2 linked regions of the Homo sapiens genome follow. The protein of the gene in region 2 interacts with the protein of the main gene of each other region in a pairwise test. Each region holds a gene or a part of one and is shown on either strand. Other genes may lie near its edges. The genes, in order: URM1 and CTU1.

The links.
Region 1: the proteins of CTU1 (region 2) and URM1 interact in binary tests that used the Homo sapiens proteins (3 or more experiments, as listed by UniProt).

Annotation. Positions count from the first base shown.
Region 1 is NC_000009.12:128,388,092-128,392,516, reverse strand, and holds the end of URM1 (ubiquitin-related modifier 1), read right to left. Parts: exon of another isoform or gene 3,257-4,425; coding exon 3,208-3,256; coding exon of another isoform or gene 3,004-3,207; exon of another isoform or gene 2,852-3,003; coding exon 2,783-2,851; 3' UTR 501-2,782; downstream 1-500. UniProt on the Homo sapiens protein: Acts as a sulfur carrier required for 2-thiolation of mcm(5)S(2)U at tRNA wobble positions of cytosolic tRNA(Lys), tRNA(Glu) and tRNA(Gln). Serves as sulfur donor in tRNA 2-thiolation reaction by being thiocarboxylated (-COSH) at its C-terminus by MOCS3.
Region 2 is NC_000019.10:51,105,304-51,113,267, forward strand, and holds the start of CTU1 (cytoplasmic tRNA 2-thiolation protein 1), read right to left. Parts: upstream 3,107-7,964; 5' UTR 3,044-3,106; intron 1-3,043.

The sequences.
Region 1 (4,425 bases), on a different chromosome or scaffold from region 2:
CGCGCACAGAGACGCCGGTCCCTGCCACCAGCGCCGCCATCCGCATCCTCGTCCTTCTTCCTTCTCTGCGGGTGACCAGTCCCGGCCGGCAGGGTCCTTCAGTCGATCGCGTCGTTTTTCCTCCTTTCAAATTTCGGCCGGAACGAAGCCGGCACGCAGCGGCGGGGCCGAATGTGGTCCGCCCTCAGCCCAAGCCGCATGAAGTCGGGGGTGAAAGAAGAGGCCGGCCGAATGCGCCCGCTAACTCGTTTCGCAGTTGTTCTAACTTATCACCCCAATACTCCCTACCTAAACAAAACAAATCCTCAACCAACCCCTAAATCCCAAACAAACCAACCCCTCCCGCAAGCCCCTCCGGACGGACCGATGGGCTGAGCCTCCTCCAGCCGCTGCCAGGGTCCGACGGGCAAGCGTCACCAACGATGCGCTCCAGCCCGGCAATCTCCTCGGCTTTGGAAATAGAATTTGGAAAAACGAATCCTTTTCATTAAAGAAAAATCTTCGGAGATAGCGGGGTTTTATTTGTTTATTTCCTCAAAAGCAGGGATCAGGAGTTGCTTGGGAGAGGGGCAGTTGGGAGCTGCTGGGGGCTGAGCCCAGGTCACCTGTCCCCTGACCCCTTTCCAGTCTAGGGCTAAAAATGACCTGAAATCGTCTGGTGTGCCTTGGACATGGCCAATTTCAACCACAGTGCTTGCACCCCCATGTGCCAAGAAACCCGGTTTTCCCAGCACCTCCTCCTGCCCTACTCTTCAGTATTAATTGGGGTGTGCTGGGAGAAGGGATATTCCACATCACACCTCCCACTCTCTGCAGCCAGGGAAACGGATCCTAGCGCCCAGTTTCCAGGACCTGAAATCTAGTGTGTTCCAATCAGGTGCACTGATGGGGCCGCTCCTGCAGCTCAGGGGGCTGCAGATGGGGAGGGACCTCCAGGTTACAAGAATCGGACAGGCTGACCTTCTAGAAGTGCAGCTGTAGGGAGCTGTTCCAAGTCTCTTGCTCTGTTCCCTAACATGGAGACCCTGACCTCAGGAACTAGTGAGGGTTGGTCACACAGCCTTTCTGGACAGCACTCAGACCCCAACACTGGCCTTAATTTGCACCCAGACCAGCTCCTCCCCATAGTCCCAACACGGCTGCTCCCACTCCACACAAGCCCAGAGGGTCTCTACCTGCAGTAGTCCTGGAGAAAAGCCCACCAGCCAGCAGGTCATCTACCCCCAAAAGAATGATGTGCACACCCCATCCCCCAACACTGCTGGGACAACCTTTTGCCACTTTCATCTCCACAGGGTGAGAGAAATTCCACCTTAAATTATTGACATAGAATGAAAAGCAACATTTTGGGTGGGATGATGCTTTTGGTGGGATGTTAGCACCCTAATTCTTTTTGGGGGTCTCCCTCCAGCAAAGCTCTTTTCTCTAGGTCATGGAAAGGAAAGACCACAGAAAGGGGGCTCAGCAGTCTTATCTATGCTACCCTCATTTTGGGTTCTGAGGCTGCTGGCTGCAGCTGGTGGGACAAAGCCTTGGACAGACGGGTGGGGATGCGTCCCGGGACACAGACTGGTCAGCACAGACTGGCTCTGCCACTCCCTTCTCCAGATGGCTCTATTAGACTACCCCCTCTCAGATTGTCTGAGTGTTCACCCCCACCCCTCTTTTGGGTGAAGGGTAGCTCTGAGGCCCTAGGCTGAGGATGGAGAGGTTGTATCACAGACCACGGCTGGGGGGATATGAGGTGCCACCCGTTTCCAAGGATGAAGCTCCAAGCAAGGCTAGTAAACAACCTAGTCTTTTATTTGCCCAAGGCCGGCTGTTGCAAGCACTGAGGCCCCAAGACTTCCAGAAGGGAAGGGGAGGAGGGGCAAAGCACTGTGCCTACCAGGTGCTGCCTGCCCCGTCCTGCTTCCTGCAGGAGGTGGGAAGGGAGAGAAAACGGACATTCGCGCCATCAAGTATCTCCCCAGTTTTCAGCCACTATATTCAGTTGTGGAGGAGGAAACTGAGGCACACGCATCCCCCCAGGCTTCTACTTGCTAGTCCAAGGTTTAACTTACTCCCTCCCCTCATCTCTACCCCCAGCAGAATGAGCTGTAAGCAGCCTGGGGAGGGTCTCAGGAGCCCATCTGGTGGCCTGTGGAGCGGGGCAGGCCAGCCAGGGTCAAGGGCTAGGGGTGGGGGGAGCAGGAGGGGTGTGGCTGGAGGAGCAGCTGCTGGCGGTGGGGGGAGTCGGCACTCAATAGGGGACCCCAGCTGGGGTTCCATACTGATAGCAGTGGGGGACAGGCAGAGCCCTCAGCTGTACAGACAGGGAAATTGAGGCTGAGAAGCCTCCAGTCTTTGGGTAGGGAGGGGCCTTCCTTCAGCTACTCAGGTCCATTCATCTTCCCCATGAAGACGCTGGCTCTGGGGCTGGAGCGCCTTGTCAGCGGCCACTCCATGTTTAGACTGAGGTACAAGGAGTGGAAGGCAGCCAGGTCACCTGGCCACAGAGCCTCCTTCAACTCTTGACAAACTGGAGGGGAACCCTCCCCCACCACAGCTGCTGGAAAAGGGAGTGCTGGGCTCTGGCGCCTGTCTGCCTTCCGCTGCTCACGTGCTTGAGAAAGGCTCATTTTTAGCACCTGGCCTCTTTTCCCTGCCTGGAGGGAGCTTAGGGGACAGAGCAGGGAAGAAGGCAGGCAAGGGGGACAGGGAGACCTGGAAGCAGGGCCCAAGGGGATGTCTGATTGCTTCGTTCTCCCCTCTAAGGGTGCCCAGGCCCAGAGAAGGGCCCTCAGCCGCCGTGCAGAGTGGAGATGAAGAGGACGCTGTCCTGGTCCTGAAGCTGGTAGTCCAGCTCACCCTGGTGCGGGAGAGAGGGGAGCGGGAGACCCTCAGGGCCACCTTCCCAGGTCCACCCCAGGAGTTGGGAGAACAGGGGCTGAGGACTGGCTGCTCTGGAAGAGACAGACTCTACCAGAAAAATGGGTATCCTATACCTCAACCTGCAAATCTTCAGGATGGAGGAGTACTCCCATGTCCCCAGCTACCCATCCCTTCCTCACCTGGAGTGGGAGACTCCAGCAGCCTCAGTGTGGGGCTGGAGTGGGGCGGAGGATTACCCAGCCACTCTATATGTGCCTGAGGAGAGGCCCAACGCTTTCCCACTGAAGCAGCAAGGGCAGGGGCTGGGGGAGGGATGTCCCCCAAGGTACTGACCAGTAGCTCCCAGTCGGCATCGTTAATCAGCACCAGAATTCCTGGCCGCCTGTGGGAAAGATGGTGGTGAGTAGCAAGGAGTGAGAGGCAGGAGGCAGTAGCACAGAGGAAGAGAGGCTGAGAGCTTTGGGCTGCAGGAGAGTGTGCTGAGGAGCCTTCCTCCTGGGGTCTGGCTAAAGATATCCCAGGAAGGGGAGGCTGGTCTGAGTGTGAAGGAAACCAGGTCAGTCATGCATGGTCTTTGTAGCCAGATGGAAAATGGGTGCAAATGCCAGCCAGCACCACCACCCAGACCATGGGCAGGTCATTTTGTTTCTGAGTATCAGGTTCCTCATCTGAAAATGGGATAAGTGATACTGTCTAACCCACAAGGCCTATACGAAAACGAAATGAGCTGATATGTGTGGAGTGCTTGCCACACTGTCATGGTAACCATTAGTAGGACTTTTCCAGGGGTCTAATCTTATTCTCGTTAGCCCTGGAAAAGAACTTCGGCTTTTTTTTAGGCCTCTGCATGCCCATCCTGGAGAGAAGGCTGTTTTGCCTCTTCCGAATCAGTTGCCATGCCACATGGCAATGCTCACGTGCAGTCCTGCCTGGCATAAGGCAGGGTAGGTCAACATTTGGTCAGGCAGCTTAGCCTGGCTCCCACTGGTAATGGCCCAAGGAGCACTGCTGGCCTTAGAGGTGGCCTCCAGGACCACTGGACCATGACCTGAAGGAGGGCTGATCCCCTAGGCCTGATCCCTTAGGACCTGACAGTGACCTATGCTTCGAGGCAAATAAGCGAGCCTCACAACTGCACCGGCCACCTTTCACGTGGGGGACTGGCCTTGTTTTAGAAGTAACTTCGTGGCAACTGGAACCTGGTCCTTTCCAAGGAGACTGCACTGGGCTTCTATGGGGTGTCCCCAGTGAGTGTGTGTGCATGTGCATGGGTGTGTGCACGCACAGAGTCAATGACTCCTTGGAATTCTAGACCCGTGCTGCACTGTATGGTAATCTACTAGCTGCATGTGGCTATTTAAATTACAATGAAATAAAACAGAATATTTAGCTCTTCAGTTGTACTAGCTACGTTTTTTCCTCAGCACTTTCTGTGTAGAGAGTAACTGAGGCCCAGAGAAGCGAAGTAAGTCGCCTAAGGTCCCACAGCAAGTCTGTGGCAACCAGAGGGCAGAATCCAAGTTTTCTGAGAAATTCACCAGGCTCCTTTCA
Region 2 (7,964 bases):
AACTCAACCCTGCTCTGGTATCAGAATGCCCCACAAGCTTCTGTGCTCTCACCAAGACATGGATCGGCCCATCTTTGACCTTCATCTGTTATCTTTCCTACTTCATTCTTCCCCACCCAGCCTAGACTCCAACCCTCCAGTCAAATCCTGGTCCTGCCTGCCTGGTGAACCCATAAAAACTCCCCAGGCTCAGTTCTCCTCCCCAAGCCACCATCACCTCCAGCCTGGACTACTGTAGTCACCTCCTTGCCATTCAGAGCAGGTCACGCTGCTTCTAGGATTTACCACAATGTGTGGAATTATTTTATGTGACTATATATTTACCATCTCTAACTTCTATGAGGGCAGAGACCAGTACCACTCAGATGTCTAATAGGCATCTCAAAACCCAAATTCCTGATTCTTCTAACCCAGCGTGCTTCTCCTGGAGTACAGGGCAGCTCCATCCTTCTAGCTGCTCAGGCCAGGAGCTTTGGGGTCCAGGACCCTGGACTGCTCTTTCTCTCACTGCACTTGTCATGCTCCCAGTGGGTGGCACCAAACTGCAATGCCAAGTCCGGACCTTTTCAAACTCCAGGTACCTAAATGAAATTTAGCAAATCCTGTTTGAATGTAGTTTCAAAACAGCCAAACACTTAGGACCGTCTCCACGGCAGCACCCTAGTCTGGTCTGTCTCTCTCCTGGACGGCTGCATGGGGCTCCCCACAGGTCTCCTGCTCCCGCCTTGCCTCCTCTACAAACACTCCTTCACATAACAGCCAGTGGGATCATGCCCTGAATCTTCTCAGCATCCTCCCCTGGATCCCATCTCACTTTAGTATAATAACTGCTAATGGCCGATGAGGCCCTACATGTGTGGCTCCTTGTTTCTCCAACCTCCTCTCCTTCAGCCTTGATGTCGTTTACTCTGACACCTGAGGAATACTCCTGCTCCAGATGTTTGCACTGGCTCTCCCCTCTGCCCTGAGTACTCTTCCTGCCACTGAGCCCAAGAAGCAGCCCTTAGGACTCATCTGCAGTGACCGTCGGGAACATCTGTCACAGGTGAGCAGCAACTCTTGGAATCTTTCTTCCCCCGACTTTTGACTCACTCCTTCTGTGCTCCTGGATTTCCTGCTCAATTCTCTTTTGGGGACGCCTCTTCATGTCCTCAGGTCCTGCCTAGCACCCATCTCTTTCCATTTTTTAAAGATTTTTAATTTAATTTAATTTAATTTTTTGAGATGGAGTCTGGCTCTGTTACCCAGGTGGAATGCAGTGGCACAATCTCGGCTCACTGTAACCTCTGCCTCCCAGGGTCAAGCGTTTCTCCTGCCTTAGCCACCCGAGTAACTGGGACTACAGGCGTGTACCACCATGCCTGGCTAATTTTTTTTTTTTTTTTTGTATTTTTAGTAGAGATGCGGTTTCACCATGTTGGCCAGGCTGGTCTTGAACTCCTGACCTCAAGTGATCCGCCCGCCTCGGCCTCCCAAAGTGCTGGGATTACAGGCGTAAGCCACTGTGCCCAGCTTCTTTCCATTCTTATGAGCGCCTCTGAATCATGATATTCAGATGTCCCTCCTGGCTGGTCCTCCACATGGCTGGGGCACCTTAAAGATGTTCAGACCCTAAGCGCCCAGACAACCTATTTCTTCCTCGAAAGGCAGAAACCTGTTCTTGCCCATCTGTTCCCTCTCTTCTGAGAGCAGCCACCACCTTTCATCCAGCCCATCTGCAGGACAGGACGTAACGTCACCCTGGACTCATCTCTCCTCACCCCCTAAATCTACAGTCACCCAGTCCTGGGGGGTCCACGTCCTGAGGAAGGGAGACGCTCGCAGGGGACAAGGCTGCACAAGTTAGCAGAGCCTCATAGGCCATGATGTGGAATTTTAGGTTTATTCAGGAGGAGATGGGAGCCTTGGGAGGTTTTTGAACAGTAAAGTGGTATGATCTGGCATGTTTTAAAAGGATTCCTAGACTGGTCAACATAGCGAGACCCCATCTCTAAAAAAATAAATAAATAAATTAGCTGCACCTGGTGGCACAGGCCTGTAGTACCAGCTACTCAGGAAGCCAAGGCAGGAGGATCACTTGAGCCCAGGAGGTCAAGGCTGCAGTGAGCCATGATCGCACCAGTGCACTCCAGCGTGGGTGATAGAGTGAGACCTTGTCTCAAATAAAAAAAGTGGGATTCGTTTGGCTGCTGTGTGGGGAGGACTGTTGGTTGTCAGGGACAAGGACAGAAGGCTGGAGGTCAGCACACTAGACAGGAGTGCTGGCAGTAGAGGTGGGAAGAAGTGAAATTTTGGATCTATTTTGAAGGTGGAGCCCACAGGACTTGTATAAGACTGATTGGAGTGGGGACTGGGGCAACGACGAGAGAAAGTGATGAAGGGTAACTTTGAGGTTCTGGCCTGAGCATTGGAGGGACGGTGGGGCCATTTTGTGAGGTGAGAAGACCAGGAATTCCATTTGGCCACGTCAGGTTTGACATGCATGTTAAGCGTCTTCCCTCAAAGACTTTATGGACCCTCGTCACTGAGTCGAGCGCCTCCACCAGGGCCCTCAGAGCTGCCCTGATCCTGACTAGCTGTCACTGGTGACAGGTCTGTCTCTCTGCTTCAAGGCAGGGACAGGGTTGGTCTGGTGCCCTCGCTCCCGCCGCCCTGCGCAGAGTCGGTGCTCAGTAAGTATCTGTAGGATGAGGGAATAATAAGTGCTCCCAGAAGAGAGGCCGCGGACCCCAGGGATGCCTCTGGATTGCAGCCTTGTCAAAAGGACAGATAATGTGTGGCATGGGGGCGGGGACAGGCAGATAGTAACATAGGGGCGGGGGCAAGCAGATGGTCTTATCCTGTCTTGGGGAAGGGAGTGGCCCGGTAAGAGACAGGCCGGACCGCAGCGTTCAAAGTGGGAATCCTGGCTACAAGGCCTCAGGGACACGGGCGCTGGGAAATCACAGAGGCCTTACGCTCGAAGAGACCCTCAACCCTCCCACGGCACCGCAACAAAGAGCCGGAGTCCACATGCCGACCCACCGCAGGAGGAAATACTCACCCGGGCAGAACTCAGTGCTGGGATGCCCACACTGCCCACCACGCGGAAGCCTGGCCCGGAAGTGACTCCGAGACTACCACTCCCATAAGGTCTTGGGGCTTTCTTGCCTAGAACTCCCAGAAGCCCATGCGACACTTCCGCTGGATGCGCCTACGGCTCCGGGGTCCCGCTTGGCCTACAACTCCCAGAAACACTTGCATTGCTCTTTCTGCCGCTCCCAAAATACACTGCTCCCCCTCCCCCCGCGTTTACTTTCTGCGCCTGCGCGCGGCCGCAGGGAGCGGCGGAGCTGCGTGTACTGTTGTCATGGCAGCGCGCTGTCACCCGGCAGGTTGCTGGATGGGCGAAGTAGTTGTATTCTGATTAACTGATTTTGTGGGATTATTATAGGATTTTAAGGGGATTACAGGGCCTATGATTTCTGCCCTTTGAGGCGGGGTTGCGGGTGGGAATTGAAGGTGGAACTGCAGGGGTTGGTCGCTAGTGTAAAAGGCGCAGATAGCGCATGCGTAGAGCAGACTTCGAGGATTGGAGTGGAACTCCGCGCGCACGCGGGGGCTGTCGTGATGCGCGTGCTGGAGACCCAGACTCTAAACAGAAGGATCCAAAGACCCTTCTCACCTAACCCAGGAGCCCAGAGGCTCAGAGACTCAGACCCTTGAGACTAAGGGGGTTAAAAACGCAGACCCCTGGCACCAAAGCACCTGAGAGAACCAGTAGACCTGGAGACAACCGTCTGCACCCTAGACACAGGGATCTGGAGGCCTCCACCCTCCCCACAAGGCCCAAGGGTCTTGAAGACCCCGGTGACTCAAATACCGGGGCACAAGGAGTTTAAGGACTCAGATATCTGAGACCCTTGAGATCCAGGTCCCCAAACCTAGGTCCTCGAAAAAACTGAGGCTCAAAATTCCTCTAGACGGCGCGGTGGCTTACACCTGTAATCCCAGCACTTTGGGAGGCCGAGGCGGGTGGATCACGAGGTCAAAAGATGGAGACCATCCTGGCCAACATGGTGAAACCTCATCTCTACTAAAAATACAAAAATTAGCTGGGCGTAGTGGTGCGCGCCTGTAGTCCCAGCTACTCGGGAGGCTGAGGCAGGAGAATGGCTTGAACCCAGAAGGCAGAGGTTGCAGTGAGCCGAGATCGCGCCACTGCACTCCAGCCTGGCCACAGAGTGAGACTCTGTCTCAAAAAAAAAAAAAAAATCCTCTAGATTAAGGGACCACCAGAGCCTTAGACTGAGATGTGGAGATGTGCAGAGAGCCCCAGGATGTGTAGGTCTACGGCCGGTGATGACGTGAGAAGGAACCCCATGCACCCTGTAGCCCATTTTTTTCCCCCATAACAGGAAACCATGATGCCTTCCTTTCATATTAAATGAGCTCCGTGAGGTCACTCTTAAGCCTTATCATGGGCCAGTTCTGTTCATCTGTGTGCGTTGGTTCATTTGTTGAATTTATTTCCTGAGGTCTCCTTGTGCCAGGCTGCCCCTGGGCTAGGTTTAGGTGACACAAATGAATCAGACTTGGTTACTGTCCTCTGAGCATCCCCCACCCCTTACACCACCACCCTGTCCTCCTGGTGGGGGAGACAGGGACTTAGTCAATATGGAGTGATAAAGCTTGACATGGAAGTGTTAAGAGCCTTGAAAGCTCAATTTCAATCACTGCCAGCCAGGGTGTCAGAAAAAAAAAAAATTCAACAAAGGCTGCTATGTGCCATGCATCATCTCAGTTTGTTCATCTGTGAAAGGGGGGCAATAATAGCCTGCCTCATAGGATTTATGCGAAGTCAAATTGAATTAACAACACCTCTAAAGAATTTAGAACAGCTTCTGGCACATAGTATGTGCTCAACAAGTGGTTATTATTCTCATCTCAATTCTCATAACATTAAGATTATATGTTACATATGAGTTGGGTACAACTGTAATTCTTCTTCTTCTTTTTTTTTTTTTTTTTTTGAGATGGAGTCTCACTATGTCACCCAGGCTGGAGTGCAGTGGCGCGATCTCGGCTCACTGCAACCTCCACCTTCTGGATTCAAGTGATTCTCCTGCTTCAGCCTGCTGGGTAGCTGGAATTACAGGTGCGCTACCACACCTGGCTAATGTTAGTATTTTCAGTAGAGACGGTGTTTCACCATAGTGGCCAGGCTGGTCTCAAACTCCTGACCTCAAGTGATCCCAAAGTGCTGGGATTACAGGTGTGAGTCAGCATGCCCAGCCTTGTAATTCTACTTAGGTGAGGATCTTGAAGCTCAGTGATGTCACTTCCCTGGACTGCCTGACTCTACAGCAGGGGTTGCAAACCTTTCCTGTAAAGGGCCAGGTAGCCAATATTTTAGGCTTTGTGGGCCACAGGGTCTTTGTGGCAACTCTGCTGTTGTATGTTGAAAGCAGCCATTGATATAAGATAAGCAAGTGAGGGTGGCTGTATACCAATAAAACTTTATTGATGGACACTGACATTTGAATTTCATGTAATTTGCATGTGTCAGGAAATATTCTTCTTTTGAAGAATTTTGAAGATTTTACACCATTTAAAGATGTAAAATCATTTGTAGCTTGTGGGCCATGTAAAAACAGGCAGCAGGCCCGATTTGGCTGGTGGTCTCTGGTTTGTAGCTCCTTGCTCAAAGCCTGTCTCCTTAGTCTCCAAGCTGTGCTTGCTCCTGGAAGAGGTGTGAAGTGTGGCAAAGGAGGTTGAGAATTTGAGGGTCGAAATGGCCTTTTAATACAGAAGAAATCGCCTGAGCAAAGAAAGATCTTGTGGCAAGAAAGCACAGGGTGCCTTTTGTTTGAATGCAATTTATGTTATCTAATCAGGTTATGCACTTAAATGCTATAAAATGGAAACAGTGCATAGACTCTACAGTGAAGTCTCCCTGTCGTCTCCCCCCACCCACCCACTGTCTAGTTCTCCTCCTCAGAGGCAGCCTCTGTCCTGCAACAATGTGGGAGTGCATGCTGAATCGGGGTGTATAGAGTTTCCCCATTCTCCTCTGTGGGACCAGGATAAGAGTGGGATATTTGGGGCTCCAGAGATAGATGGGAAAAGAGGTGAGGTCAGCCATGAGAAGCCCTCTCACTCCCAGCCCTCTGCTGTCTGGTTTCTTTCCTGTCTCCCCTAACACAGTCTCCCGATCAACACCAGTGGCCTCTTTATTGACAAATAAAGGTCTAACCTGGGCTCTACCTACTTCTGAGTCTCTTTGCCCTGACCACAAAATCTACCCTCCCTGGTCCTCTTTCTGGCCAAACCATGTCAATCAACTTGCCAGGAGCCTTGTACTCCACAGCGCTGTCATTTCTCTGCAAACTCCCCAGGTGAGCTCATCCACTCCTGCCACTCCCGCAACTTCCGTCTCTGCCCTGATGCCTCCCCACTTTCCTGCATATCTCCACTGCATCCCGAGACTCGGACCTGCACAGTTAGCCCCTGGTGGTGGCACTGGCATGCTTCAGCCTCTAGGTGAGGATCCTGAATCACTTCGCTGACTCTTTTTCTCACCCACTGCTCCCCATTGTTCAGTGAAACTTGCCAGTTTTGCTTCTTGAAAGTTTCTCAGACCATTCCCTTCATCCTTGTGGCCCTGCCTTGGCTCAGCTCATCCTTTTTTTTAAATTATTCATTTATTTATTTATTTTTTTTGAGATGGAGTCTCACTCTGTCACCACAGCTGGAGTGCAGTGGCATGATCTCAGCTCATTGCAATCTTCGCCTTCCAGCTTCAAGCAATTCTCGTGCTTCAGCCTCCGGAGTAGCTGGGATTACAGGTGTCTACCACCATGCCCAACTAATTTTTTTATTTTTAGTAGAGACACAGTTTCACTGTGTTAGCCAGGCTGGTCTTGAACTCCTGACCTCAAGTGATCTGCCTACCTCGGCCTCCCAAAGTCCCAGGATTACAGATGTGAGCCACTGCGCCGGCCGTTTCTTGCCTGGACTCTCTCACCCCAACCTCTAATCCCTTCATTCCTGAATCCTCCCACACTAGCCCCAGATTTAACCTTGTCTCTCCCCTTCTCGAAACTCTTCCATGGCTCCCCATTGCCATCAGGCTTTCCATTGTCAAACCTCTGCAGACTGCAACGGAGGTGCTGCATGATCTGGTCCCTGCACACCCTTCCAGCCTCAGAATGCCTTGCCATCTCCAGGTCATCTAGCTGCCATCCTAAGCAATCCGCGTCTGGTGGAAGATATGGTGGCTGGGCTCAGCTGTCTCTCTCCAGCTCTGGGAGCTTTGGTTCCTGCAGCATCAATGTGCATCTCTGAGGGCCATTTCCTATATCTGGTGCTTGTTACTGGCAGCACTTGCTTCCCCACCCCTCGAAGGGCTAGAAGCTTCCCTGGGTAGAATTTCTGCATGAAGAGAGTTCGTTCACCCGTGGAGCCTACTGAGGAACGGGATTTTTGTCTGTGGTTGGTTGGTTTGTCTGTTTTCATTGTAGTGTATCAAACAGTCCTTATTTTGCCCTAAGTCCAGCTCTGTCCCACTGCCTTCTTGTTAGTTTTTGCATCTCCTTACTAAATGGTAGGTCTGCCTGGGTTCCCACAGCAGTGCTAATAAACTTTGTTGGCCAGAGGAGGCACCAGGAAAGACTCTCTGTTGGCAACACTCTCTGAAGGGCCCTCTGTTTCTCTTTGGCCTTGTCTCTCGTTCTCCTCATCCCAGGAGCCTTTTATGTGAGTTTCCACAGCTCCTCCTCGCACCCTCTCTTCTCTCTGCACTTCTCGTGGCTCCCCCCGATGTCTTGCACACCATGCTGTTCATCCCAATCTGCTCTGAGCCCCAGACAACCACATTTCCCCCCTTCTCAGTGATGGAACCATCATCATTATCCAAATTAGGATTCTAGGAGTCAGATAGATATTTCTCTATCACCTACCATATCCTGTTTGCAAGATGTCTT